Linked DNA regions of Homo sapiens. The protein of the gene in region 4 purifies or fractionates together with the protein of the main gene of each other region. This does not show direct contact. Each region holds a gene or a part of one and is shown on either strand. Other genes may lie near its edges. The genes, in order: ZER1, SPATA20, VPS33B and LYG2.

Evidence for each region.
Region 1: the proteins of LYG2 (region 4) and ZER1 purify together in Homo sapiens (co-immunoprecipitation; 3 studies listed by BioGRID and IntAct, with this or other methods). This does not show direct contact.
Region 2: the proteins of LYG2 (region 4) and SPATA20 purify together in Homo sapiens (co-immunoprecipitation; 3 studies listed by BioGRID and IntAct, with this or other methods). This does not show direct contact.
Region 3: the proteins of LYG2 (region 4) and VPS33B purify together in Homo sapiens (affinity purification with mass spectrometry; 2 studies listed by BioGRID and IntAct, with this or other methods). This does not show direct contact.

The regions. Positions count from the first base shown.
Region 1 is NC_000009.12:128,768,912-128,776,429, reverse strand, and holds the start of ZER1 (protein zer-1 homolog), read left to right. Parts: upstream 1-4,502; 5' UTR 4,503-4,849; exon of another isoform or gene 4,850-5,272; intron 5,273-7,518. UniProt on the Homo sapiens protein: Serves as substrate adapter subunit in the E3 ubiquitin ligase complex ZYG11B-CUL2-Elongin BC. Acts to target substrates bearing N-terminal degrons for proteasomal degradation with the first four residues of substrates being the key recognition elements.
Region 2 is NC_000017.11:50,550,154-50,556,352, forward strand, and holds the end of SPATA20 (spermatogenesis-associated protein 20 isoform 1 precursor), read left to right. Parts: intron 1-54; coding exon 55-159; intron 160-382; coding exon 383-457; intron 458-554; coding exon 555-764; intron 765-844; coding exon 845-1,037; intron 1,038-1,357; coding exon 1,358-1,526; intron 1,527-1,815; coding exon 1,816-2,027; intron 2,028-4,097; coding exon 4,098-4,297; intron 4,298-5,078; coding exon 5,079-5,159; intron 5,160-5,338; coding exon 5,339-5,509; 3' UTR 5,510-5,699; downstream 5,700-6,199. UniProt on the Homo sapiens protein: May play a role in fertility regulation.
Region 3 is NC_000015.10:91,019,581-91,027,448, reverse strand, and holds the start of VPS33B (vacuolar protein sorting-associated protein 33B), read left to right. Parts: upstream 1-4,854; 5' UTR 4,855-5,199; coding exon 5,200-5,295; intron 5,296-7,868. UniProt on the Homo sapiens protein: May play a role in vesicle-mediated protein trafficking to lysosomal compartments and in membrane docking/fusion reactions of late endosomes/lysosomes.
Region 4 is NC_000002.12:99,252,654-99,260,673, reverse strand, and holds the start of LYG2 (lysozyme g-like protein 2 precursor), read left to right. Parts: upstream 1-5,007; 5' UTR 5,008-5,071; intron 5,072-5,536; 5' UTR 5,537-5,654; intron 5,655-6,383; exon of another isoform or gene 6,384-6,388; 5' UTR 6,389-6,413; coding exon 6,414-6,456; intron 6,457-8,020. UniProt on the Homo sapiens protein: May act as a potent antibacterial protein that may play a role in the innate immunity.

The DNA.
Region 1 (7,518 bases), on a different chromosome or scaffold from region 4:
TTTTTAGTAGAGACGGGGTTTCACCATATTGACCAGGCTAGTCTCAAATTCCTGACCTCAGGTGATCTGCCCGCCTCAGGCTCCCAAATTGCTGGGATTACAGGCATAAGCCACTGAGCCCAGCCTACAGTACTTGATTTTCATACGTTGAACCATCCTTGAATTCCAACAATAAATCCCATTCCCACATCTCACTTGGTCATAGTATATTGCTATTTTAATATGCTGCTGAATTTGGCTTGCTATATCGAAACTATATCTTTTTTCAGCCTCTTACTTTGAACCTATTTCTGTCTTTACATTTAAAGTGGGCTTATTATAGGCAGCATTTTGTTGGGGCTTGCTTTTTTAAAAGTAAAAATTTTAGAGGCAGGGTCTCCTTCTGTCACCCAGGCTGGAGTGCAGTGCACCATCATGACTTACTAAAGCCTCAACCCTCTGGGTTCAAGAGATCCTCCTGAGTAGCTGGGACTACAGGCATATGCCACCATACCTCACTAATTTTTAAATTTTTTGTAGAGACAGGATCTCACTATATTTCCCTTGCTCGTCTCAAACTCCTGGATTCAAGTGACCCTCCCACTTTAGCCTCCCAAAGTGAGAGCTTGTCTTTCTTTCTTTCTTTCTTTTCTTTCTTTCTTTCTTTTTTTTTTTTTTTTTGAGATGGAGTTTCGCTCATGTTGCCCAGGCTGAAGTGCATTGGCGCCATCTTGGCTAACCACAAACTCTGCCTTCTGGGTTCAAGTGATTCTCCTGCCCTAGCCTCCCAAGTAGCTAGAACTACAGGCATGCACCACCACACCCAGCTAATTTTTGTATTTTTAGTAGAGACAGGGTATCACCACATTGGCCAGGGATGGTCTTGATCTCTTGACCTCATGATCCACCAGCCTCGGCCTCCCAAAGTGCTGGGATTACAGGCATGAAGGCATGAGCCACTGTGCCCAGCCATTTTTTTTTTTTTTTGAGATGGAATTTCGTTCTTGTTGCCCAGGCTGGAATGCAATGATGCCATCTCAGCGCACTGCAACCTCCACTTCCCGGGTTCAAGAAATTCTCCTACCTCAGCCTCCTGAGTAGCTGGGATTACAGGCATGCGCCGCCACGCCCGGCTAATTTTGTATTTTTAGTAGAGATGGGTTTTCTCCATGTTGGTCAGGATGGTCGTGAACTCCTGACCTCAGGTGATCTGCCCGCCTCAGCCTCCCAAAGTGCTGGGATTACAAGTGTGAGCTGCTCTGCCCAGCTCGCTCTTTTCTTTTTTCTTTCTTTCTCTCTCTCTCTTTTTTCTTTCTCTCTCTCTTCCTTCTTCTTTTCTTTCTCTCTTTTCCTCTCTCTCTCCTTCCTTCTTTCCCTTCCTTCCTTCCTCCCTCCTTCCCTCTCTCTCTTCTTCTTCTTCTCCTCCTTTCTTTCTTTTTCTTTCTTTCTTTCTTTTTCTTTCCTTCTCTCTTTCCCTCTTTCCTTCCTTCCCTTCTTTCTTTCTTTCTCTCTCTTTTTTTCCTTTCTTGTCTTTCTCTCTTTCCCTCTTTCTCTCTCTCTCTCTTTCCTTCCTTCCTACTTTCTTTTTTTTTTTTTGAGACAGAGTCTTGCTCTGTCACCCAGTCTGGCCTCAGCCTCCCAAGTACCTGGGACTACAGGCAAATGCCACTACGCCTGGCTAATTTTTTTTTTTTTTTTTTTGTATTTTTAGTAGAGACAGTGTTTCACTATGTTGTCCATCTTGTCTCAAACTCCTGGCCTCAAGTGATCCGCCCACCTGAGCCTCCCAAAGTGCTGGGATTACAGGCATGAGCCTGGGGCTTGCTTTTCTATGCAATGTGACAAACTCTGCCTTTTACTTAAAGTGTTTAGACCCTTACATTCACTATGATTATTTTCCTGGTTTAATCTAAGCCCATTTTGCTATTTGTTTCTTTTTTTTTTTTTTTTTTTTTGAGACGGAGTCTCGCTCTGTTGCCCAGGCTGGAGTGTAGTGGCGCCATCTCGGCTCCCTGCAAGCTCCGCCTCCCAGGTTCACACCATTCTCCTGCCTCAGCCTCCCGAGTAGCTGGGACTACAGGCGCCTGCCACCACACCCGGCTAATTTTTTTGTATTTTTAGTAGAGACCGGGTTTCACCATGTTAGCCAGGATGGTCTCGGTCTCCTGACCTCGTGATCTGCCCGCCTCGGCCTCCCAAAGTGCTGGGACTACAGGCATGAGCCACCGCGCCTGGCCTGTTATTTGTTTCTTATTTCCTATTTGTTTTCTGTTTTCTTTCTTTTTCTTTTGTTTGAGACAGAGTCTCACAGTGTTGCCCAGGCTGGCGTGCAGCGGCGTGATCTCCGTTCACTGCAACCTCCGCCCCCAGGGTTTAAGCAATTCTCCTGCCTCAGCCTCCAGAGTGGCTGGGACTATAGGCACATGCTGCCACACCTGGATAATTTTTTAAAATTTTTTATTTTAGTAAAGACAGGGTTTCACCGTGTTGCCCAGGCTGTTCTCGAACTGCTGAGCTCAGGCAATCAGGCCACCTCAGCCTCCCAAAGTGCTGGGATTACAGGCGTGAGCCACCAAACCGGGCTTTTTTTTTTTTTCTTGTGAAACAGAGTTTCACTCCTGTTGCCCTGGCTGGAGTGCAATGGCACAATCTTGGCTCACTGCAAACTCTGCCTCCCAGGTTCAAGCGATTCTCCTACCTCAGTCTCCCAAGTTCCCAAGTAGCTGGGATTACAGGCGTGCGCCACTATGCCCAGCTAATTTTTGTATTTTTAGTAGAGACGGGGTTTCACCATGTTGGCCAGGCTGGTCTCAAACTCTTGACCTCGTGATCTGCCTGCCTTGGCCTTCCAAAGTGCTGATATAACAGGCTTGAGCCACGACGCCTGGCCCAAGCAATGTATTAATATGAGAGTTCCCATCTAGCCATATCCTCGTCAACATTTGTTATTGTCTCTCTGATGATGTCCATCTTAAGGAGCATAAAACCGTACCTCCCCACCTCCTGGGCTCAAGCAATCCTCCAACTTCAGCCTCCCGAGTAGCTGGGACTACAGATGCGCACCACCATGCCCTGCTAATTTTTGTAGAAATGGGGTCTCCCTATGTTGCCCAGGCTGATCTCCAACTCCTGGGCTCAAGCCTCAGCCTCGACAACCCCATCTGCTGAGATTATAGGTTGTGAGTCACTGTGCCAAGCCCAACAGCTTTTTTAAGGATTCAAGACTGTACGAACATAGTTGTAGCTGGTCAAAGATTAAAAGGTGCTATGCAAGAAAAAAGAAATCCACAAAATTAGTTCTTGGAATGGAACTGAGGCACCTGTCAAGAAAGGGTTCCTCAAGAAAGGAGCATCTAGCTAGGGTGTGGTAGCTCACGCCTGTAATCCCAGCACTTTGGGAGGCTGAGGTGGGCGCATCACCTGAGGTCAAGAGTTTGAGACCAGCCTGCCCAACATGGCGAAACCCCATCTCTACTAAAAATACAAAAATTAGCCAGACGTGATAGTAGGCGCCTGTAATCCCAGCTACTTGGAGGCTGAGGCAGGAGAATTGCTTGAACCCGGGGAGTCTGCAGTGAGCTGAGGGCCATTGCCCGCCAGCCTGGGCAACAAGAGAGAGAAACTCCGTCTCTCAAAAAAAAAAAAAAAAAAGAGAAATCCAGAGAAGAAATGATGGTGTTTTGAGATGGAGTCTTCCTCTGTCGCCCAGGCTGGAGTGCAGTGGTGCGATCTCAGCTTACTGCAAGCTCTGCCTCCTGGGTTCAAACGATTCTCCTGCTTCAGTCTCCTGAGTAGCTGGGATTAGAGGCGCGCACCACCACGCTCGGCTAATTTTTGTATTTTTAGTAAAGACGGCGTTTCACCATGTTGGCCAGGCTGGTCTCGAACTCTTGACCTCAGGTGATCCGCGTGCCTCGGCCTCCCAAAGTGCTGGGATTACAGGCGTGAGCCACTGCGCTCGGCCAGAAGGAACTGGTTTGACAGGATCCTTAGGACTTGGAGACTGGACGAGGGGCCCAGGAAAATGTAGGGGCCGAGGTCGCCGCCCAATTTCCCATTTGGAAGCTCGGTTGCCTGGTGGCGCATGCCCTAGATGGAGGTTAGGAGCACCTTTTGGGGGACGGTGATGACTGCGGGTTGACACGCGAGTGTGAGCCACCCGTGGAGAACGCAAGACATGTTCAACAGGGCGCTGGATGGAGGGGGCTGGCGCCCAGAGTCAGTCCTGCTATTCAGCAGTGTTGGGCTCAGGTGAACCGCAGCGCCAGGGCGGGCACCGATCCTAGGGTCCCACGAACAGGCCCCTCGGAGGCCAGGGAGAGCCCTGAATGACGCGTTCTCTCGGGTGGCCTGGGGGGGGCATCCCGCGGCTTCCTCCACCGGCGTAACGTGCCGGGCCCGGGGAAAGGAGCCGCCCGCCGGTCCCCGGAACCTTCTGCCGCCGCCGCCCGCGTTAGCCGCGGGACGGGTCGGGGGAACCCGATCGCTGTTGCTAAGGGGCGGCCCCGGAAGTGACGCGCCCCGGGTTTGTTGACAGCGGAGGCGGCGGCGGCTGCAGGCTCCGAGCCGTAGGAGCCGGATCGGGGGAGGGGCCGGGCCCAGGAGCCTCAGCCCCGCCGGCAGCCCTAAGGGCAAGGTAACCGCCACGGGGTCCCCGTCGCGACCCCCTCCCTCCCGGAGCTCCCGTCCCCGGGATCCCAAGCTCCGCCCCGCCGACCCCCGTCTCCCCTGGACCCCGGCTCTAGCCTGACGAGATCCCCAACCTCCTGAGGTGCTCTGGCCCCGGATTCTCCCGGGCTGCATTCTCTGCTCCTCCTCGCCTGCGAAGCATCACGTCCGCTTCCCGACGCTGAGGGCAGCCCCGTCCAGGGTAGGTCCCGGACCCCGGGCCAAGGGACGTACCTGCGTCCTCCTCCTTCGCCTCCTGCCTACGGGGCCTAAGCATCGCCGCTGCAACCACTCTCTGAGGTCCATCTCCGCCAGTGGTGGGAGGGTTCCTTTCTCTATCCCTGCCGCCAGGTCTGAGAATCGTGTCTTTAAAACTGAGCTCCCTTCCTCCAGAAAGAAAATGACGCTCTGTCGTTTGCCCCTACAAGATGGGGGATCGGTGTAGGGCTGAAAGGGCCACCCTCTGCCCCTCCTACCTGTTGGATGAGCTTAAGTTCCCCCAGAGAAGTGCTTAGAAGCTCAAGGACGACTTGGATTCTGGATCAGCTCCCAAAAGGGATGACACAAAGTATAGGGAAATCCAACAGGGTGAGGTTGCAACCGGAGGGCCAAGGGAGCCCGACAGGTGAGTTGATAGTGAAACTGACTGTGCTGGCCACTATAGCTCTCTGGGTGGAACTTGTCTTGGCTGCTCTTTGACCGAAAGAGCCCAAGATTTCCAGTCTTTGCCTGTGTTTGTCAGTCCATTCGTTTTGTTTTGTTTTGTTTTTCTTTAAATAGAGATGGGGTCTCACTATGTTACCCAAGCTGGTCTCGAACTCCTGGGCTCAAGTGATCCGCCCGCTCCAGCCTCCAAAAGTGCTGGAAATACAGGCATGAGCCACCGCGCTCAGCTAGTGCATTTGATTTTTAAGGGGGAGGGGAATGGAATGTCTGATGTCTTGGGAAAATCCTTCCATATATGATCTTTCACAGAATGTTTCTCTTCAGACTTCAAACTGGTTAGGATGAGCATAAAAGCATAGCCTTGAAAAGGGTCACGGGAGGCTATACTTAGAGCAGAAAGTGGTGGCCAGGGGTGAAGGGCCTCGCTACTTTGGTTCATTTGTTCATTCAGCAAATAATAAACATGATATGTAAGGAGGTAATAAGTGGTTTGGAGAAAAATAGAGAAGGAAGGACCATGGGGAAGGAGTTGGGAGTTGTCATTTTATAGAGGGTGTTCAGGGAAGGTCTCTAGTAAGGTGACCTTTGAGCAGAGATAAGTGAGGGAGCAAGCCAGGTAGTTCTCTTGTGGCAGAGCATTCCGCAGCAAATGCAAAGGTCCTGTGGTCATATGCCTGGTGATTTGAAGAAACAGCATAAGGGCTCACGCTTGTAATCCCAGCACTTTGGGAGGCTGAGGCAGCCGGATCACCTGAGGTCAGGAGTTCAAGACCAGCCTGGCCGACATGGTGAAACCCCATCTCTACTAAAAGTACCAAAAAAAAAATTAGCTGGCCGTGGTGGCTCATGTCTGTAATCCAAGTTACTCAGGAGGCTGAGGCAGGAGAATTATTTGAACCTGAGAGGTGGAGGTTGCAGTGAGCCGAGATTGTGCCCATTGCATTCCAGCCTGGGTGACAAGAGTGAGACTCTGTCTCAAAAAAAAGAAAGAAACAGTGGGAGGATGGGGGACTGGAGCAGGTTGAAGAAAGGGAAGAGTGGTTGGCAAGAAAGTCAGAGAACAGTGGGGACCAGAAAAAGGTGGGGAAGACATCAGGGGCTGTCCTTGTGATACAGGGTCACAGGGTGTCTAATGGGACACCCTTTCAGAACCGTACTTGTTGAAGTGTCTGGTGGTTGGAGAAAATACAGATTTGTTTTAGATGACAAATGGCCATTGTGCTTGGGGCTTCGGTTGTAAGTACCCTTCTTCCATCTTTGTAATGACCATTGATGGAACAAATACAAAGAATCATGGTCACAGAGAACTGCGATTAAATCAAGTTAAGTTATGCCGCTGCTTCCTGGTTGTGAGAAGGTGGGCACGGGACCTTTTTCCACCTCAATCTTCTCATCTGGAAAATACAGCAGGCTGGGTGTGGTGGCTCACACCTGTAATCCCAGCACTTTGGGAGGCAGGTGGATCACCTGAGGTCAGGAGTTCGAGACCAGCCTGGCCAACATGGTGAAACCCCATCTCTACTAAAAATACAAAAATTAGCCGGGTGTGGTGACGCATGCCTGTAATCTCAGCTACTGGAGAGGCTGAGGCAGGAGAATCGCTTGAACCTGGGAGGTGGAGGTTGAAGTGAGCTGAGATCATGCCACTGCAGCACTCCAGCCTGGGCGACAGGAGCGAAACTCCATCTCAAAAAAAAAAAAAGAAAGAAAGAAAAGAAAAGAAAATAGGGCTGTTGGATTAGATAAAATCATGGGCTGAAGTGCTTAATGCAGTATTTCACACAAAGTGCTCAATACATAGCGGTCACGCTGATGAGGATGATGTGATGATGAGGAATGTGGGCATGTATGTCTGCCTCAGAGCCGTTCGTTTTAGCACTAGCTGGTGGTGTCACCAGCTCTAGCTGCCTCCATCAACTAGTAGGATTTGAGGAAATATTGGGGAAAGCAAGACAGAAACTTCTTGACACCCCTCAGAGGTAACTGGGTTAATATTCTGCAGAGAAGACGTTAGCTTGGTCCTGGCTTTTCTGACAGCAGCGGAGGGTGATGGGGACTTTTAAAAAAGAGCCCAGCACTGCCAGCGCTTTGGGAGGATCGCTTGAGGCCAGGAGTTTGAGACCAGTCTGGAGAACATAGGGAAACCCTATCTCTAAAAAAAAAAGAATTAAAATGAGCCCAGCAAATTTCCATTCTACCACGTAA
Region 2 (6,199 bases), on a different chromosome or scaffold from region 4:
GGCTGTGGGGTGGGGCAGAAGCTGGGACTGGCCTCCAGCTTTGTATCCGCACAGGGCTTTCACCGCTACTCCACAGACCGCCAGTGGCACGTCCCTCACTTTGAGAAGATGCTCTATGACCAGGCACAGCTCGCTGTGGCCTATTCGCAGGCCTTCCAGGTGACCCCTGACCCCAGCCCAGAGAACAGGCATCTCACTCTGGCTGCCCCTCCCAAGGCCTTCCTGGTGACTGTGGCTTCTCTTAATCTGAATCCCCTGTTCCCTCCCATGTACCCACTACCCAGGCTTCCCTCCCCCGCCTGCCTCAGAGAATGTTGCCACCTTCCACCTGGGCCTCCCCAGTGACCTCTCTGTTCACAGTCTCCTTTCTTCCCTTTCTTAGCTCTCTGGTGATGAATTCTACTCTGACGTGGCCAAAGGCATCCTGCAGTACGTGGCTCGGAGCCTGAGCCACCGGGTGTGTGTCCATGGTGGCAGGCAGGCCTGGCTGTGGGAGGGGTTGGGGCCTCCACTGCCCTGTGGGCCGGGGCCAGCCAACTCTCCCCTCCCCACAGTCCGGAGGCTTCTATAGCGCAGAAGATGCAGACTCGCCCCCAGAGCGGGGCCAGCGGCCCAAAGAGGGCGCCTACTATGTGTGGACGGTCAAAGAGGTTCAGCAGCTCCTCCCGGAGCCTGTGTTGGGTGCCACCGAGCCGCTGACCTCAGGCCAGCTCCTCATGAAGCACTACGGCCTCACAGAGGCTGGTAACATCAGCCCCAGTCAGGTGAGGACTTCTGGGGTCACCTGACGGGCCCTGGTGCCTGCCAGGCGTGTGAGCTCGCAGACAAAGGCCATTCTCCTCAGGACCCCAAGGGGGAGCTGCAGGGCCAGAATGTGCTGACCGTCCGGTACTCGCTGGAGCTGACTGCTGCCCGCTTTGGCTTGGATGTGGAGGCCGTGCGGACCTTGCTCAATTCAGGGCTGGAGAAGCTCTTCCAGGCCCGGAAGCATCGGCCCAAGCCGCACCTGGACAGCAAGATGCTGGCTGCCTGGAATGGTGGGGCAGCACACCTGAGACCGAGCCTGTCTGTAGGATCCCCCTTCACAAAGCCCCTGTCTTTCCGGCAGCGGCTAAATGCTCACTCTCCCTTGATTAGCGTTATTATTCTCAGTTGACAAAAGAGGCTTAAGGAGCTTGAGTAACCCGCCCAAGGTCACGCGCAAGGGCTGGGAACCCCGCCATGTCTGGCTTTGGAGCCCAAGATCTTAGGGATCACCCATGGCTCCAGGGAGGTGTTGGGGCCTAAGGTGATAGGGTGGACATGCCTGGAGGGTCCTGGCCAGCTTCTTACCACTACTTGTCTCTCCTGGCTCCAGGCTTGATGGTGTCAGGCTATGCTGTGACTGGGGCTGTCCTGGGCCAAGACAGGCTGATCAACTATGCCACCAATGGTGCCAAGTTCCTGAAGCGGCACATGTTTGATGTGGCCAGTGGCCGCCTGATGCGGACCTGCTACACCGGCCCTGGGGGGACTGTGGAGCACAGGTTGGGGGCTGGGTAGACCGGGAGGGCCCGTCTCCCCAACGCGTCCCCAGCCTACCTCTGCCCTACTTCTCCCCTCCATGTGGACTCCAGTCCTGGCTCTGCCAGGTGCTTGCTGTGAGTTTGTAGCTTCCCTGGGCCCATTTACTCATCTGGGAAGTGGGCTGATGGCACCTGCCCAAGAGGGTTCATCTGGAGGGTTAAGTGAACAAATGCGTGAAAGGGCCTCCTCTGGGAAAGGCCCTCTCTCCTGGGGCTCTCCCCAGCCCCTCCCGTAATGCCTGTCCCCCAGCAACCCACCCTGCTGGGGCTTCCTGGAGGACTACGCCTTCGTGGTGCGGGGCCTGCTGGACCTGTATGAGGCCTCACAGGAGAGTGCGTGGCTCGAGTGGGCTCTGCGGCTGCAGGACACACAGGACAAGCTCTTTTGGGACTCCCAGGGTGGCGGCTACTTCTGCAGTGAGGCTGAGCTGGGGGCTGGCCTGCCCCTGCGTCTGAAGGACGGTCAGTGGGGGTGCAGGGCTAGTCTGGGGTCCTGGGAGGTGTAAGTGCAGCGTGGGTGAAGAGCTGGTGTGGGCAGGAGCCCTCCTGGCTTTGTGTCTCTGCTACTTATTAATGGCGTGATTTTTGGCTGCTGTAATATTTCTGTGTCTCAATTTCTTTTTTTTAAATAGAGACAGAGTCTTGCTATGTTGCCCAGGCTGATCTTGAAATCCTGGGCTCAAGTGATCCTCCCACCTCGGCCTCCCAAAGTGCTGGGATTACAGGCATGAACCACTACACTCAGCGTGTTTTGTTTCGTTCCTTTCTTTTCTTTTTATTTCCTTTCTCTTTCTTTCTTTCTCTTTCCTTTCTTCCTTTCTTTCTTTTCTTTCTCTCTTTCTTTCTCTTTTTTTTTTTTTTTTGAGACAGGGTCTCACTGTCACCCAGGCTGGAATGCAGTGGCATGATCTTGGCTCACAGCAACCTCTGCCTCCGGGGCTGAATCAATTCTCCCACCTCAGCCTCCTGAGTAGCTAGGACTATAGGCATGCACCACCATGCCTGGCTAATTTTTTGTAGAGATGGGATTTCTCCATGTTGCCCAGGCTGGTCTGAAACTACTGGGCTCAAGTGATCTGCCCACCTCGGCCTCCCAAAGTGCTGGGATTACAGGCGAGAGCCACCATGCCTGGCCTGTTTCTTAATAAGTAAAATGGAGCTAACATTGGTACTACCTTACAGGGTTGATGTAAAGATGAATGTAGCTGTTCTGTAAACATGCTTAGCACAGTAACTGACACCCATGGATTCAGATATTGACCAAGGCTCACTTGGTCTCTGCCCTCATGAAGCTTACAGTATGGTAGGGGAGACAGCGAAAATGCAGTAATGATGCAAAAACACATGCACAAATGTGCAGTTAAAATTGTGGTGAGTGCCATGAAGAAGTAGGACGCTCTATGTGTGCCTGCTCCCTATCACCCATGTGCCTTGTCTGTGGTTAAAGGTTTCTTTCCCAAAACTCAAATTTTAGCTCCTCAAAGATCAGGACTTTCTGCCACTGTTGTATCCCCAGGGTCTAGTGTGGTTCTGGCACATTGTAAGTGCTTAATAAATGTTAACTGAGTGAATGAAAGGGCCTTGGGAGAGAACCACAGAGGAGGACCAACTCAGCCTAGGGAGAGATTAGAGGACACCTGTGACAGGTGTCATTTAACCAAGGCCTGGAGGGAAAGAGGGGCCATGTGGCCATGGAGAAGCTGTGGAGAGAGTTCAGGCATAGGGAGCAGTGCATGACAGGCCTGGTGCAGGCAGCCTGTATCCTGGAGGACAGGCAGGGCCCGCGTGTTCCAGGAGGGCACCGAGGAGAATGCTGAGGCCGGCAGGGCACGGAAGCCGTCTTTTTTTTTTTTTTTTCCTAAGAAAAGAAGGCTGGTCTCAAACTCCTGGGCTCAGGTGATCCTCCCGCCTCGGCTTCCCAGGTGCTGGGACTACAGGTGTGAGCCACCATGCCCGGCTGGCAAGGAGGTTTTAAGTGGATTGTGATCTGCTCTGGTATGGTTTTAAGGAGGTCACTCTGACCACTGATGGAGAGAAGTGGGGGTGGGGGAAACAGGCGACCAGTTAGGAGGCCATTACTCGTGTTCAGTCCAGGCAGGCATTGGTGAAGGCTCAGAGGATGTGGAAGTATGAGATGGGGAGACATGGTGAGATTTGGATCTCTTCTGGCCACAGCCCTGGCAAGACTCACAGATGGATTAGAAGCGGAGGGAGAGGGAGAGGAAGGGGACAGGATGATGCCGCTCTAGCTTGAGCAGCTGAGTGGCTGGACAGAGGCATCAGCAGCGAGGAGGGAGCCTGGAGACCAACAGTTGAGGCTAGGACAGGTAGAGTGGAGGGTGCCATAAAAAAGACAGCAAAGTACTGATAACTGCTGGAGTGGCATCCACACCCAGAGCGGGGAAGGGGCAGGATGGGCAGGGCCTTTTCTCTGTCCCGTCCCCCAAGTGGCCCTGGATACAGTCCTGGGCAGGGTCCTGGGACTCAGTGACCTGCCCTTACCCCCACCCCCTGCCTCCCTATGTGCTGTAGACCAGGATGGAGCAGAGCCCAGCGCCAATTCCGTGTCAGCCCACAACCTGCTCCGGCTGCATGGCTTCACGGGCCACAAGGACTGGATGGACAAGTGTGTGTGCCTATTGACCGCCTTTTCCGAGCGCATGCGTCGTGTCCCGGTGGCGTTGCCCGAGATGGTCCGCGCCCTCTCAGCCCAGCAGCAGACCCTCAAGCAGGTGGGGGGTGAGGGCATCTGGGCTGGGACCTCGGGTAGGAGGGAAGTTGGGGCTGCGATGGCAGATGGGAACAGGGGGTGGGGTTCCTGGGCTGTCCCCAGAGCTCAGGTCTGTGTGTGTGCAGGCACGTGGCCTGTCAGACAGGGAGGCAGAAGTTAATATGAGTCCGTGGTGGCTGATGAAGTGTTTCTCTGTACGTCTTGGTGTCAGTGTAATTGCTTCTGTCCATACTGTGTTACTGGTGTGTGTGTACTTCCGGGTGTGTGTGACCCTGGAGGTGTGTGTCTGTGCACCTACCTTTGAGGGGGATGCTGGTGTGAGTGTTTGTCTGTCTGCATGTGGATGCCCCATCTGCAGGTTTGCCTCTGTGTCTGCCTGCATGCGTGTGTGTCTGGTGTTTGTGTGTGTGGTATCTGCCTCTGTGTGGGCATCTACTGTGTGTGTGTGTGTGTGTGTGTGTGTGTGTGTGTGTGTGTGTGACTACTCTGTGTCTGTCTGAATGGGTCTCTGTGTGCTCTGGGTCTTCTGGGTGTGTGTCTCCCCATGTTTGTATCTGTACCATTGTGTATATGTATGACATTTCCACTTCGGTATTCTCATGTGTGAGTGTGTGTGTGTGTTCCCACTTGCCAAGCATTAACTCATCCTGGCAGCTGAGATGAGTCCCTGTTCCTTCTTAGAGATATACGGTGGGGCGGAAGGAGGATGGGGAAGCCCTGGTGGTCTAGGGCTCAGCCCTCCCTCCCCTGACACACCGGAGTGACCTTTCTATTCCGGTCAGATCGTGATCTGTGGAGACCGTCAGGCCAAGGACACCAAGGCCCTGGTGCAGTGCGTCCACTCTGTCTACATTCCTAACAAGGTACCCATCCCTGTGAGCCCAATCTGCCACCTCCCCAGAGCTGCCCCCTCCCATCCTCAGCTCCTCAACATCTCCTTCCCCTCAGAATGTTGGGAAGAGGGAACTTCCCAGTGGGCCTTTCTAATGGGCAGGTGACCCCACCCCGGCAGGTGACTCTCCCTGCTCTGCTGCTGCCCTAGGTGCTGATTCTGGCTGATGGGGACCCCTCGAGCTTCCTGTCCCGCCAGCTGCCTTTCCTGAGTACCCTCCGACGGTTGGAAGACCAGGCCACTGCATATGTGTGTGAGAATCAAGCCTGCTCAGTGCCCATCACTGATCCCTGCGAATTACGAAAACTACTACATCCATGACTGCCCCAACCCCCTTGGGGTGGGGCAGAAGGTGAAGCATCCCAACTGACTAGAGACTCAGGCCCTGCAGGGCCCTATAGAACCTGTGGCCATCCCTGAGCACCCTGCCACCAGGTGACCTCGGCCATACTCACTGCCCCCCTTGGGCACCCACTCACCCTAGAATAAACTTAACAGTGTCCCGTGGTAACCTGAGGGCCTCAGCTTTGCTTATGAGGGAGGGACTGGGAACCAGCAGCTCAGGGCCACTTCCTCTGGCAGCCCCCACCTGACCCCTCTGCCTTCTCCCATTTCTCCTTCATCTTCCAGGGGTCAGCAGACTGCCCCTTTCCCTTCCATGGTCATTGTAGCCTGAATGAATTTAGTCCCCTGAACTGAGGTCAGGGGACTAAAACCAAGTAAAGATGCCCAGGGGTGGGCATGGGGGTGTGGACTGGCCCAGGAGGGAGAAAGCACAATCCTTGCCCTCAGAAAGAGGTTAAGAAGGGAACCTGCCCTCCCCTCCCCATTGTCTCCTTGTGTTGAGCTGGAAAGGGGGCAGAGATGCTTTATATGAGCTTTTATATTTCACAGAATGGTGACTTTGCATATGCCCTGGTGCATTGTGGGAGCTGCTATTGTCACGACTAAGACATTTCTTTTGGGGTATCCATCTAGCCCCAGCCTCGAAAGGATGGAAGCAGGGCCTCC
Region 3 (7,868 bases), on a different chromosome or scaffold from region 4:
CAAGACCCCCCCCATCTCTATAAAAATAGGCCAGGCACAGTGGCTCACAGTTGTAATGCCAGCAGTTTGGGAGGCCAAGGTGGGTGGATCACTTGAGTCCAGGAGTCTGAGACCAGCCTGGGCAACACAGTGAGACCCTGTCTCTATAAAAATAGGCCAGGCATGGGCCAGGTGCAGTGGCTAGTGCCTGTAATCCCAGCACTTTGGGAGGCCGAGGTGGGCGGATCACGAGGTCAGGAGATCGAGACCATCCTGGCTAACATGGTGAAACCCCGTCTCTATTAAAAAATATAAAAAATTAGCCAGGCACGGTGGCGGGCACCTGTAGTCCCAGCTACTGGGGAGGCTGAGGCAGGAGAATGGCATGAACCCAGGAGGCCGAGCTTGCAGTGAGCCGAGATAGCGCCACTGCAGTCTGGCCTGGGCAAAAGAGTGAGACTCCATCTCTAAAAAAAAAAAAAAAAAAAAAGATTGCAATATATGATAATCATTTTTAAAGTATTTGATTAAACCTGATAGGTTTTCCGGAAATGGAAAAAAAAATCCATTTTAAAACCAAGCTGATTTTTAGAAAATTTCAAAATGTAAATCAGCCCTATCCAGAATATAATTTATTTAAAACTTTATCTTAAGGAGTCATTTTATAATAGTATAACTATTAAAAAAGTAACTGTTATTTTAATGTTTTGAAATAAAACATTTTAAAATATGAATACTGTAGCTTAAAAGAAAGAAACTGGAGAAGGAAAAGTAGAGAAAGAAATGCCAATTCCAGTCCAAAGTTTTATTTGTCAAGTTTTCTTAGAATAACTTTTACCTATTTACGAATTCTTGTAAATAGAATTTATAATGGAAATACTGAAAGACTTTTGCCTAAAGTGTCATTATCGAATACTGCTGTGATGTTACTGTAATGTAATAAGTTATTGTTGCAAAGTGCTGTTTTTGACTTAAAATTTTATTTTGTGTGTCTTGAAAACCATAGTATTAAAGGTATCGAGATTGTGCAAGTGCTGGGCACACTTGGCATGGGATAATGTTTTTATTTTTACAAAATTGTAATATAACTATGCAAGTGTTTATTAAAAGAACACAAACTGAAAAGGTTATGGGATTAAAAAAAGTAATGGGATTAAAAAAGTTATGAGATGTTCTGCACGGTGGCCCACGCCTGTAATCCCAACACTTTGGGAGGCCGAGGCGGGCAGATCACCAGGTCAGGAGATCAACACCATCCTGGCTAACACAGTGAAACCCGTCTCTGCTAAAAATATAAAAAATTAGCCAGGCATGGTGGCACACCCCTGTAGTCCCAGCTACTTGGGAGGTTCAGGCAGGAGAACTGCTGGAACCCAGAAGGTGGAGGTTGCAGTGACCCGATATCGCACCACTGCACTCCAGCCTCGGCAACAGAGTCAGACTCCGTCTCAAAAAAAAAAAAAAAAAAAAAAAAAGTTATGAGATTAAAAAGTTATGGGATTTTTAAAAAGTTACATTATGGGATAAAAAATGTTATGAAAAAAGACTGAGGAAAAAAATTGTGGGAAAAAAGTTGTGGAAAAAGTTATGAAAAAAAATTATTCCAAAAAAAGTTTTATGAAAAGCTATGGGATTAAAAAAAAAGTCATGTGATAAAAATTAAATAAAAGCAGGCCACTGTCAGCAAAACCTGGGGAAGTGTCCAATGGGGGAAACAGGTGCAGATGAGATGAAGATTACTGTCATCCAAAAGCAGGGAACTAGGCCCGGCGTGGTGGCTCGCTCCTGTAAGCCCAGAATTTTGGGAGGCCGAGGTGAGCGGATCACCTGAGGTCAGGAGTTCGAAACCAGCCTGGCCAACATGGCAAAACCCTGTCTCTACTAAAAATACAAAAAATTAGCTGGGCATGGTGGTGCGTGCCTGTAGTCCCAGCTACTCAGGAGGCTGAGGCAGCAGAATTGCTTGAACCCGGGAGGTGGAGGTTGTAGTGAGCCCAGATGCACCATTGCACTCCAGCCTGGGTGACAGAGCAAGACTCCATCTCAAAAAAAAAAAAAAAGTTATGGAAAAAACTTAGGAAGAAAAAGTTATGGGATAAAAAAAGTCATGGGATAAAAATAAAAATAAGGCTGGGCGCGGTGGCTCACGCCTGTAAGCCCAGCACTTTGGGAGGCTGAGGCAGGTGGATCACCTGAGGTCAGGATTCGAGACCAGCCTGGCCAACATGGAGAAACCTCATCTCTACCAAAACTACAAAAATTAGCTGGGAGTGCTGGCGCATGCCTGTAACTCCAGCTGCTCCAGAGTCTGAGGCAGGAGAATCGCATGAGCCTGGGAGGCGGAGGTTGCAGTTAGCCAAGACAGCACCACTGCCCTTCAGCCTGGGCAACAGAGTGAGATTCCGGGGGGGAAAAGAAGGAGTGTAATGTAATGCCTCACTCATCTTCTTTAAGCAGCAGTGGGAGTAAATCCCACCACTTTAGGGCAACCTCCATCTCCCACTGCAGCCAAGATTCAATCTAAGGGCGTTAGTGGGAAGAAAGGCTCAGCATAAAATACCATATGAGCTCTCAAAGTCCAGTGTGAGCATAGCGTGTTTTTTGTTTTTTGCTTAACCTTGTATTATACAGCTTTTCAAACATAGAAACGTAGGGAGAAGTTCAGCAAAGTGGCATGTGCCTGTATTCCAGCTATCTGGGGGGCTGAGGTGGGAGGATCACTTGAGCCCAGGAGCTCAAAGCTGCTGTGAGCTATGACTATACCTCTGCACTCCAACCTGGGCAACAGAGCAACACTCCATCTCTAAATAAAGACGTAGAATACTAAAATGCAATAAACCCCCATGTACCCATCAGCTTTAACAATTAACAAATGGCCAATCATTTTTTAATTTTTTTATAGACATGGGGGTCTTACTGTGTTGCCTAGGCTGGTCTTGAACTCCTGGGCTCAAGCAATCCACCTGCCTCGGTCTGGGTTCACAGGCGTGAGCCACCGTGCCTGGCCCAATCTTTTTCCTGAATGTTCCTACATCTCCCCCTGGGTTATTTTAAAGCAAATCCCAAACATATTTTAGTTTTTTTTTTTATTTTTTAAGAGACAGATCGGGCCAGGCATGGCGGCTCATGCCTACAATCCCAGCATTTTGGGAGACTGAGGCGGGAAGATCACCTGAGGTCAGGAGTTCAAGACCAGCCTGACCAACATGGAGAAACTCTGTCTCTACTAAAAATACAAAATTAGCTGGGTGCGTGGCACATGCCTGTAATCCCAGCTACTCAGGAGGCTGCAGCAGGAGAAACGCTTGAACCTGGGAGGTGGAGGTTGCAGTGAGCTGAGATCGTGCCATTGCACTCCAGCCTGAGCAACAAGAGCGAAACTCCATCTCAAAAAAAAAAGAGACAGAACATATCACTGCACTCCAGCCTGGGTGATAGATAAAGCCAGACCTTGTCTCAAAAAAAAAAAAAGAAAAGAAAAAACAAACGGTGTCTCACTCTGTTGCCCAGGCTGGGGTGCTGTAGCATGATCGTAGCGCACTGCAGCCTCAAACTCCTGGGCTCAAGTGATCCTCCTGCCTCAGCCTCCCAAGTATCGAGATTAAAGGTGCCCACCACCATGCCTGGCTATTTTTTATGTGTTGTAGTTGACCAATCTTATCTCAAACTCCTGGCCTCAAGCAACCCCCCGACCCCGACCTGGACCTCCCAAAGTGGTGGGAATTAGAGACATGAACCATTACTCCTGGCCAAATTATTTCACCTGTAAAAACTTCAGTATGTATCTCAAAGAGATAAGGACTTGTTTTTAACAGAAATACAAGCCTGTATGACATAGAAATACAAAAAATAATAATAACATAGAAATACAATACCTGGCCCAACGTTGTGGCTCACGCCTGTAATCCCAGCACTTTGGGAGGCCAAGGCAGGCGGATCACTTGAGGTCAGGAGTTCGAGATCAGCCTGGCCAACATAATGAAACCCCGTCTCTACCAAAAATACAAAAATTAGCCGGGCATGGTGGCACTCGCCTGTAATCCCAGTCTACTCGGGAGACTGAGGCAGGAGAATCTCTTGAACCTGGGGCGGCAGGGGGGTTGTGGCGCGGAGCTTGCAGTGAGCCGAGCTCCTCCACTAGGCAAAAGGGCGAGACTCTGTCAGGAAAAAAAAGAGAAGAAAAGAAATACAATACCCGAAAAGTTTTAGTAATTCCTTAAATCAGTTATCTTTGAATTATTATCCAAAAAAGATCCACACATTGAAACATTTTGTTGATACATCTCTTAAATCTCTTTTATTCTGAAGTGTTTTCCCCTCCCACATTTCCCACTTTGCCATTTTTTTGAAGACGACAGATCATTTGTCCCATATAATTTCCTACATTTTGGATATGGTTGATTTCATACCTTTGGTGTCTTAACATATTCCTGCTAATCTCTATATAGCCTATAAACTGGTAGTTAGATCTTGAGGCTTGATTAGGTTCAATTTTTGGCAATAGGTGATGCTCTGTATTTCCTATGCATCTCACCAGGAAATGATATGATGGTATGATTGATCAGAGTTGAGGTATTGTTAGCTAGCCTGATGCATTCATTATGTCTTTTTTTTTTTTTTTTTTTTTTTTTTTGAGGCAAGGTCTAGCTTTGTTGCCCAGGCTGGGGTGCAGTAGCGCGATCGCAGTTCACTGCAACCTCCGCCTCCCTGACTCGAGCGATTCTCCCACCTCAGCCTCTGGAGTGCTGCGACCCCAGGCGCCGCCACCTAATTAATAGACGCGTTGCCTCCGTTTTTCAAATGTCCCTTTCAGGACGCCGTCCCCTTCCTGGTACGCGAAGCGCTGGGAGCGAAAGGGACTTCCGGGAGATCTAGGAAGTCGCTTCTTTTTCTGGTAGAAGGCGGGGTTCTCCTCGTACGCTGCGGAGTCTCTGCGGGGTGTAGACCGGAATCCTGCTGACGGGCAGAGTGGATCAGGGAGGGAGGGTCGAGACACGGTGGCTGCAGGTCTGAGACAAGGCTGCTCCGAGGTAGTAGCTCTCTTGCCTGGAGGTGGCCATTCATTCCTGGAGTGCTGCTGAGGAGCGAGGGCCCATCTGGGGTCTCTGGAAGTCGGTGCCCAGGCCTGAAGGATAGCCCCCCTTGCGCTTCCCTGGGCTGCGGCCGGCCTTCTCAGAACGAAGGGCGTCCTTCCACCCCGCGGCGCAGGTGACCGCTGCCATGGCTTTTCCCCATCGGCCGGACGCCCCTGAGCTGCCTGACTTCTCCATGCTGAAGAGGCTGGCTCGAGACCAGCTCATCTATCTGCTGGAGCAGGTCAGTGCTTGCCTGACGCCTTTATCGCATCTACAGTTTAGCACTCATTGGATGCACATTTCTTCCTTGCCGTGCCCCTTTGATCTTGTTCTTGGCCCCTGGTATTGTCCTTGGCGCTTCCCCAGCAGGTCCAGAATGAATCCAGGGAGTAGTAAGAGCTGTTTGGAACCTGGCCAGAGAGTTAATGGAAATCACCCCCCAACCCCGCATACAGGCAAGGGAGACACCATTAGTGCCAGGCATCCCTAGGGACGGAAAGATGGTTAAGACATCTTTGCCATTAGGGATCTTACCACTCCAGTAGGAGCTGTATGAAGCACAAATTATCACACACAGGTGGTAAATGAGTGATAGAGCTAGTGTACCCGAAGAGTTCACAGTAAGTGATCATTTCTAGTTGGGGTGATGATCTAGGAGCTTCAAGGAAGTGAGTGTGAGTAATAAGCATATTTTCTTTGGAGACTAAGCATGCTCCAGGCAGATAGATTGGTAGGAGCAAAGTTGGCAAACCAGGGAAAGACAAGGCATGTAAGGGAAGACACCCATCAGCAGTTACACAGTAGCCACTGAAAAAAATTTTTTTTCCATTTGTGGCATGAGACAATACTTGATGATTCTAATAGTGATGTGTGTGGTGGCGTAAATGGGCAACAAGAAGGCCAGTTAGGAGACCGTAGATCAGACAAGAAATAAAGGCCCACACAAAATTGGTAGCAGTGGGAATGAAGGAAAGTGATGGATTTTTAAGTTATGGTGAAAGAAAACTCAAAGACTTACTGATTGGTTATAAATGTTGAAGGAGAAGCAAAAATGAGTGAGATTTTTAACCTGGGTTATTAGGAAAATAATACTGCCACTGTGATTTTAATGGATTACTTGTGTAATCATTTAGTTATTCATTTTATGTCTGTATTCCTCATTAGACTGGAAGGTGGGCAGGGATCATGTTTGTTTTGTTCAACACTACCTAGTGAGTACCTAGCTTAGAGTCAAGCACACACCATGTGCTTAATAAATATTTGTTGTATTAACATTGAATAGAAATGAGAAAAATAATTAGAAAAAGGAACAGGTTTGATGGGGGAAGTTGATTTGTTTGGGTTTGGATGGGGGAAGTTAAGATGCCCGTAAGAAATATAGCTTGTAACATCCAGCAGATAGAAATGTAGAACTGCAGCTGCATTGTGAGGACTGGAAGGAAGATGGATCAAGATGAGAACTGCAGGGCATCTTAGACCAGATTTTATTTCTATTTTATTTTATTTATTTTTTTGAGACACAGTCTCACTCCGTTGCCCAGGCTGGAGTGCAGTGGCGCGATCTTGGCTAACTGCAACCTCCACCTCCCGGGTTCAGGCGATTCTTCTGCCTCAGCCTCCCCAGTAGTTGGGATTACAGGCGCACGCTAGCCCACCTGGCTAATGTTTGTATTTTTAGTAGAGATAGGGTTTCACCATGTTGGCCAGGCTGGTCTCAAACTCCTGACCTCAGGTAATCTGCCCGTCCCAGCCTCCCAAAGTGCTGGGATTATAGGCTTGAGCTACCACTCCCGGCTTCTTTCTCTTTAATACTTAGTGCTTGCACAGTGACATGCACATAAAAGACTTGCAACAATGTCTGAAGAATTTAAAAGAGGTGCTAGTTAAAGCCACTAGTTCAGGTGAGATCAAGTAGAGGAGACCAAGAAGAGAAACTTGAGCCCACTGGGTGATTCAGCATGGCCAAAGTGGATTTCCAGGCAATAACGTCCTCTCCTAACTAACTTCTGACTTAATTTTTGTTAATGTGCACTGCTATTCAGCTTGAAATATCAGAATCATCTTTGCCTCTCCTTCACCCTGATACTTAACTGAACCAGTTGCTGAGTTCCATGGATACTTCTTTACACATAACTTTTTTATGGTGATTATAAAATAACACTTGCACATTATAGAAAATGTAAGAAGATTAAGGAAAGTAAAAAGGAAAAGAAAACTACTTATAGCCCTACCATAAGTTATAAACACTACTAACACTGTTAATTTCTTTCAAGTATTAAAAAAAATATTAGGCTGGGTGCGGTGGCTCATGCCTGTAATCCCAGCACTTTGGGAGGCCAAGGCAGGCAGATCACCTGAGGTTGGGAGTTCGAGACCAGCCTGACCAACATGGAGAAACCCCATCTCTATTAAAAATACAAAATTAGCTGGGCATAGTGGCCCATGCTTGTAATCCCAGCTACTCAAGAGGCTGAGGCAGGAGAATTGCTTGAACCCAGGAGGTGGAGGTTGCGGTGAGCCGAGATCGCGTCATTGCACTCCAGCCTGGGCAACAAAAGCGATACTCCATCTCAAAAAAAAAAAAATTATATTACACATTCCATGTATCTCTTAATCTATGTTTGCTCACACCACCACCAGCCTAAATCAGGCCTCTTTCATTGCCACATGCTTGCGCTCTGTGGATGGTTTTATTAACTCCCTAAGTGGACTCCCTGCCTCCTGTTTCTCTGGTCTTCAGATTCCTCTAACATTTCCAGCTGATTGGAATGCTTCAATACACAAAAGCTTTATTTTTCCCTGTTAATTAGAGGA
Region 4 (8,020 bases):
TACAGCATTTGATTATATTCAAGTCACTCCCAGGTTAAACCATGACAAAAGGACTGTCTTTGACACAAGTCCTTCTCCAGATACTGCTCCAGCTCTTCTCTCCATCACAGGTATAGTGAACAACTATAGAGCAGTTTTTTACAAAATCATCCAGACTTCTAGGTAAGTGACTGCCTGGGGTCAGAGGGTGAACAGGAGAGAAGAGGGAGGGGAGAGAAACTGGGAATGACTGCTAATGGTTGTGGAGATTCTTCCATGGATAATGAAAATACTCTAAAATTGATTATGCTGATGGTTGCAAAACTCTTATCAACATACTAAAAACCATTGAATTGCACACTTTAAATGAGTGAAGGCTATGATATGTGAATTATACCTCAAATCAAGCTGTTTTTAAAAAATAGCTTACTTGGCCGGGCACGGTGGCTCATGCCTGTAGTCCCAGCACTTTGGCAGGCTGAGGCAGATGGATCACCTGAGGCCAGGAGTTTGAGACCAGCCTGGCCAACATGGTGAAACCCCATCTCTACTAAAAAATACAAAAATTAGCCAGGTGTGGTGGTGGGCACCTGTAATCTCAGCTACTCAGGAGGTTGAGGCAGGAGAATTGCTGGAACCTGGAAGGTGGAAGTTGCAGTGATCCGAGATCATGCCACTGCCCTCCAGCCCAGGCTGACAACAGTGAGTCTCCATCAAAAAAAAAAAAAAAAAAAAGTTTACTTTTGGCACAATGAAAGACATAGTTAGGGGATATCATGAGGCAGTCTTTTTATGGTGATGGGTCAGTTCTGTATCCTGATTATGGTGATGGTTACTTGCATCTACCTGTGGGATAAACGTTCACAGTACTATACGCTTCTGAAATATAAATAAATATTTTTTTTAAAAGAGCGTGTAAAAACAAACTGGGGAAATCCAAATAAGGTCTGTACCTAAGTTTACAGTATTGTATAATACTAATGGTAATGTTCTGGATTTGACATGTACTATAGTTATGTAAGACATTGCCATTGGGGGAAGCTGGGTGAAGGGTACATGAGAACTCTTGGTACTATTTTTGAAGCTTCTTGTGAAATTTAAACTATTTCAAAATGAAAACGTTACTTTAAAATTTTGTTTCAGACTTCTCCCTTCTCCTTTCCAAACCACAGGGAGTCCCTTTTTCAAACAAATATATTCCTAGACATGGTTGAATGATCCAGAGGTGGGCACCTGACCCAGCCCAGGTTCATTGGAATTTTTTCCTGGATTTTTTTTTTAACTTGTGTATTTTTCCATTATATCGTTATACTACAACTGTTAGTCCATTCTTCTGTTGATGAATTTTTTGGAGTGTTTCCAGTTTTGAGCTATTATGAATAAAGCACTGTAAAAATTCTTTTTTTTTCTTTTCTCTTTGCAGAACTTACAATCTGTGAAGATTCTCATACAAGTCTTTTGGGAGACATTTTTTTTTTTTTCATTGCTCTTGGGTAAATAACTAGAAATAAAATTCCTGAGGCATATAGTTATTTACTTTGTTAGAAACTGCTGAACAGTACTACAAAGCAATCATACCATTTTATACTCCAACCAGCAATGTATGAGAGTTCTGTTTTGTTTCATATTCTCACCAATATGTGATATAGCTAGTCTTTGGTTTTAGCCTTTTTAGAGAGTGTGAAATACTGTCTCATTTTGGTTTTATTTTGCATTTCCCTGATGTGTAAAGATGTTTACCAATTTTTCATGAGCTTTATTGGCCATTTGTATATCTTCTTTCCTGAAATGTTGGTCAAATGTTTGACATTGGAAGACCAATAATGCAACCATATAAGTGGCTTCTTCAACAGGGCATACCCTGCATTTTACCTATCATATAGTAGATTAAAACCAAGACAAGAAAAGCACACAGCAGTTAAAGCTTGACATTGATATATCCTGGGGTTAAGTTGAATGTTTTAGTGAAATTTTATGGAAGGGCTCCCCTTCTGCCTTCTTACCAGCCATTGGCGCCAAAGTACCTTTGCCACATATTCTTGGGCAGCTCCCCCATTTTATAGGTTTCAGAGCTGTGAAACAGATGCTTGGGCTGCAGCTGCTTGTGTGGCTGTTTCTGAACTTATCCTTCCTCCACTCCTACCAGGCAGGCTACAGAGTCCTGACAATGAATAGCTCTTGCTTGTCCTGCCAAGTTTTCTTCATGGCTGGAGAGAGACTTCACCTCCTACTTCCTGTCCTATAATTCAGCTGTTTATTTTTCCTGAGTGCATGGATAAACAAACAAATGAATAAATCAACAAGAAGCTAAGCCATCAGGACTTGAGTGCAAACCCATCATGATAGTAACTGGCATCTCTATGAAGCACTGTAGTTTATAACATGTTTTTACATATAAAATTTATTTTTGTCTTCAAAACAAAGTCATGGGGCATTATTATCATCTCCATTTTACAGATGAGGAAAATTAAGGCTCAGGGAGGTTAAATGAGTTGGCTATGGTCATCCTCCTTGGCTGTTGTTCCTGAGAAGGGAAAGCTGTGCCTGGGATTCACAAATAATGACATGGCGGAGACAACCCAGTCTCTATTAGCACAGACTAGTGTTGGGAGGGAGGCAGGTGGGGACGCAGAGGGCGAGGGGACCAAGGGAGCCTGAGGTGCTGGATTCCTTTAACTCCCAAAAGTGCTAACCTAGGGTAGCTCAGGGCACAAGGGCAGGTCTTTGTGTGGTATGAATTGAGAAGTCTTGCCAGGAACTCCTACCAGAATCTACTTCCCTGGCTATACAGAGTACCTCAGTTTTCATAATCATTCCTCTCCTCCTAACTAGGACAGTACTGCTTAAACTTTCCCATTGAAGTTTTCCAATTGCTGAGGCCATTTAGTCGTTAGGGATGATTGGAGTCTCCACCACTGAAGCCAGGAACCCCAAATCTGTTAGGACTCCCCAGAAGCTGCCAGAGAATTGCTGCACTGAAGAGTCTTAGGAGCAGGCAACTGATTTGAGGGGTAGGGGACCAGGCCATAGAGTTTTATTTGTATAGCACAGAAATTGCTTGCATATAGATTGTGTTTTTATTTTGGGGACTGATAGAGATTATGACAGGTGCCAAGTTCCCTTCAAGCCCCTCCTGGAAATAACAGTACAACTTACATGTAGTCATTCTTGGTATCCCTGGGAAGAGATGGAGAATTATTCAGTACATTTCTTCTTAGTGACAAGAAATTTCTAAGGTCATTATACAATAGTACCCACACTTAACCATCCACTGGGTCAGTAGGGTACTGCAGTTAAGAGTTAGGCTTCAGAATGTAACAAACTTAGGTTATGCCCCTTCCTATTATTCTACCAGTCATACCATACAAGGTCAGTGCGTATTAACTACATTATTATTACTGGTGGAGAAAATATAAAGTGACAAAAAACCACTTTGGACTTAGTTAACTTATATTAATTTGCATTTTAGAAATTACAACAGCACCTACAAACATTTGACAGATAGTGGTATAAAAATCTGTGAGTGGTGTTATTTTTCCAGACCACGGACAATGCTTTGTATCCAGATTGATTTGGACCTGTTGCAATGATTGCTCTGCAGAGGCATTTGTCCATCGTGCTGGCACTTCGATACAGTGGAAGAGCATGGATTTTGGAATCTTACAGGCCTAGATTCAAATCCTGGCTCTGTCACATGCTAACTGTGCCATCTTTGACAAGTTACTTAGCTTCTCTGAGTCACAGTTTCCTCATCTCTAAAATAAGGGATAATACCTGCCTCACAGGGCCAGTGGAGGATTGAGTCATATAATATCCATAGGAACCTGACTAATGTTGGGTGTCAAATAAATGTTCAATTGTTCTCTCACAGCTTGAGTGAACAGAACAATCCACATCAGTTTGAAAACAATTTTGGTTGAGTTGCAGAAGCCTGGACATTAAGGACCTCATACCTAGAAGGACTCGTAGCCCCACTAACTGAGAGCAGAAGGATAAGTATTCTTCACATTCAACAGTGCTTTAAATGTTTTATTAACAATGTCTTCTTCCAGTGCATGTAGGGAGAGCCCCAGCCTCCACCTACTCTCTTTTACCTAACTTATCATTCGTAACTTCTTAATCTCCCTTTCTTGAGCTTTCTCATTGCACTTAGCCTGGAAGCCTCAGGTAAGTGGCTCTACTCACCCTGCAGTGAAGTGGGTCACGGGCACAATGTCGCTGGGTCATAGACTATGGGTTTCTAAGGCCTGCCTCAGGGCAGTTAGACTCCTGCAATATCCCTTATTCAAGAGTGGTCCTGACTGCAGTGTTGATGGTGGTGGAGCAGACCCTCCATGGGTCACTTTCCTGAGAGTCAGGTAGGAATCATCCATTGGCTCAGAACAGCCCTGCCACTCTTCCAGGGATGGAAGGCTAGAGGCCATGCCAGAGACGTCTGTTCTACAAGCAGGAAGGCAGGCAGGGCAGAAGTGAATGCCAGTGGACTGTGCAGACCTCAGCTTGGGGAGGGCATGTTCTCCTGGGAGTGGAGGTGGTTTTATTGCCAGGGAGCTGGGAAGTTGCCTGTGGTTTTGTCTTCCTGTTCCCTGTACAGCTGCCTTCCACCTTTCTTCACTCAGTGGATGTGGGGGAGGACTGTGTGCAGTCTGAGAAACTGGACACGCTTGTGGAAGGACCCAGACCAGACTTCTTCCTCCCCTCAGCGCAATGTGCTTTGCCTGTTTCAAGAACGTCCCTTCCATTTCCTGTTCCTGGGGCTGCACAATATGCTTCCTCTCTTCCTTTGGACATAAGCCTGAAGAAAGATACTCTCTTCTTGAAGAAGTTTTCATCCCTGGCTATAATCTTTTTTCCCATATCCTTAGCAAGTATGGGCAAATGAGCACTCACGTTGCTACTCCCTGGTTTTGCATTGATCTCCTAGAGCAGGTGGCCACACTTGCACCTTTTTCTCAGAAGTGGGATTGGAGTAAGGAGCCAAGTTCACCTATCATGATCATGTGACATAGTGGTTTGAGATCATGTGACATACTGGTACGGGGATCATATGACATTGGAATGGGAACAAAAAGCAGGAGACCCAATATTTCAGGTAAATAACCAATCCAAGAATAAAAATTGCTAGTATTTCCTGTTATCCTTTTAAAGTGAATTATCTGTTTCTTATTCGCAAATTTAGAAGCTGTTTGGCACAATTTTAGATATCTAGAAACAATCTATCAAAATATGCCTCCTGAGCAACTTGGGGGTTCATTAGGTTAATTAATTAATAGTGGTTAATAAGCCCTTTGAAATCCTCTTATTAATTGGGTCACCTAAGTCCTAAGTACTATTATAACCAGGCCTAATGAGGTCAATGGTTTAAAGAGAGGGTTTTAAACCATATATAAAGCTCCTCTAATGATCATTGGTACAGGACGAAGGTAAGAAAAGCCAGGTGAGTCTTCATGCTGGTGTTTAAAAGTTTCCTCCACAGCAGTAGAGCCACGCTGATGTCTACTCTGTTGAAGCCAGGTGCGCAGTGATCTACTGACTAATGGATTCTCCAATTGTTAAGCCTATGTTACAGGACAAAGGCCGTCGCTTTGTAAAAGCTTGAAGTGCAGTTTGCTGCTGAGTACAGAAGACCTTTGCAAACAGAGAGGGGAGATTTTCTCTGTAAGGTTGCAAACAAGGTTAGTGCTGGCCTTCTTATGTCTTGTAAAACTTATAAGCTACCATTTGAATGAAACCAAGAATAGAGTTGATTGAGGAAGAAATGGAGCAGAGGAAACCTCTTCTAAGTCACGTTCTCATGCTCCTGTTGGTATTTTGTTTTATTTTGTTTTCCCTACGGAGACCCTGGTATAAGAATGGAAACACCCAGGCATGGTGGCACGCATATGTCGCCCCAGCTACTCAGGAGGCTGAGGTGGGAGGATCGCTTGAGCCCAGGAGTTTGAGGCCATAGTGAGCTATGATTATGCCACTGCACTCCAGCCTGGGTGACAGAGCAAGATCCCATTTCTAAATAAATGAATGAAAGACCAAAACTGATCCTTGAAGCCAGGGGTAGGGTGAATAACTAGAATGAAAAGATCAGTATTTTTTTTTTTAAAAAGAAAGGGAACAAAATTGTGGTGTTACCAAGCTTAGAGGTGGGATGGGAGTGTATATTTAGTTACATATGTAAGATACGCATGACTCATGTCAATATGAAATTGGATTGAAGTGAGATTAGGAGTTTATGCTTAAGAAAGAGAGTGTGCCAACAAACTATGTACTGAGCCTGTGAGAATACTATCTTGAAACAGGGAAATGAGTAGTGAATTGGAAATAACTCTAAACTTTTTAAAATATCAAAGCAAATTTTTCTTTAGGAAATTTTCAGGTTTTAAAATTAACCAGTTTCTATTTCAAATCAGAGCAGGTCCTGGAAGATAAGATTCCCCGCCATGTTATCCTCCGTGGTGTTTTGGGGACTAATTGCCCTCATTGGTAAGTCACTGGCTGAGATTTAGCATTGTTCACAGGGTGTCCACAAAAACCTCCAGCACAATCATGAATCAGAAAGAGCAATGATTACCTGTAATGGAAGAGTGGGCTCTCATTCTGACCAGCTTGGCCATTAATCAACTATTATTTCTATAATTAACAGTGTGTTCTGCTTGCTAAGCAGGTGAAAAACAGGATCTATGGGAATTTCAAATAATCTAATATTTATTGATCTGCTTACTTCCTGTCTGACAATGCACCTATCAGGCTGGATACCTTACCGAGAGGTATATGGAACAGTGCCTTGGAAGCAAAACACATGAAGAGACAATTATCAATGCCAAGCAGTGGATGAGAGTTCAATGTGTATAGGTGGGAAAAAAGCACTAGTCTGGGAAAGGTTTGGGAGGAAGAGCTCACATCCAACTAGAATGCTCAGATGTGAAAGGCTTTTGGGGGGGACATGTCAATTGAAGGATGCTTGGTGATTTAATAAGAAAAAGGAAGAGCCTGCTGGATGGGAAGAAAGATTTCAGTAAAAAAGCAGAGGCAGAAATGAATGAAAAGTCTTTGGGTCAGTGTGGTCTGGACAGACGAGGGGGTTTCTGGGGGGAAGGCTGGAAAGATAGGTTGGTAAGTTGGTAAGGGATCTTGAATAAGAGAATGTGAAAACTCTGACCTAAGCAAAATGAAAAGCCATTATGAGCAATGTTCAAGTTGTCTTTAATTATAGAATGGTGACTGAAAGGAAAGTGTTTCTAAAATGTTTAATTCTAAATTTGGAAAAACAAGGCTACCCGAAAGTAATTTCCAGTTACTTATGGTCAAAACAGGGCAACATAGTTTTAAATTTTTACTCTTTTTAGATTGCCAGGTGAGAGCAGAGTTAAATAGCCAGTAGATTAATTATGAGCTACCATATTAGCTGTGTATAGCTGAAAGGTGACTCTTAATTTAAAAAGGGCTTGTGTGTTTATAAGGCCTACACAGGCAGCGTAGGGTCCATGGTCATATTCCAGTTCCCTTAAAGCAGTGGTTCATAAACATGTGTAAGAGTCAACTGGGAATGCTGGGTAAAAGGCAGCTTCTTTCGCCTTATACTGCAAGATTTTGGTGCAGTAGATCTGGTGTGAAAAGCCCAGTGATAAGCCTTTTTTTTTTTTTTTTTTTTTGAGACAGAGTCTTGCTCTGTCGCCCAGGCTGGAGAGTGCAGTGGTGCGATCTCAGCTCACTGCAAGCTCTGCCTCCTGGGTTCATACCATTCTTCTGCCTCAGCCTCCCAAGTAGCTGGGACTACAGGCGCCCACCATCATGCCCAGCTAATTTTTTTGTATTTTTAGTAGAGACAGGGTTTCACTGTGTTACCCAGGATGGTCTTGATCTCCTGACCTCGTGATCCGTCCGCCTTGGCCTCCCAAAGTGCTGGGATTATAGGTGTGAGCCACCACGCCCGGCCCAGTGATAAGCATTTTTAATAAGCTTCCTGGGTAACTTTGATGCCTGTGGTCTGTGGGCCACACAGTGAGCCTGGCAAAGACTGCCTCCCAGTGAAAGGATACTGAACCTG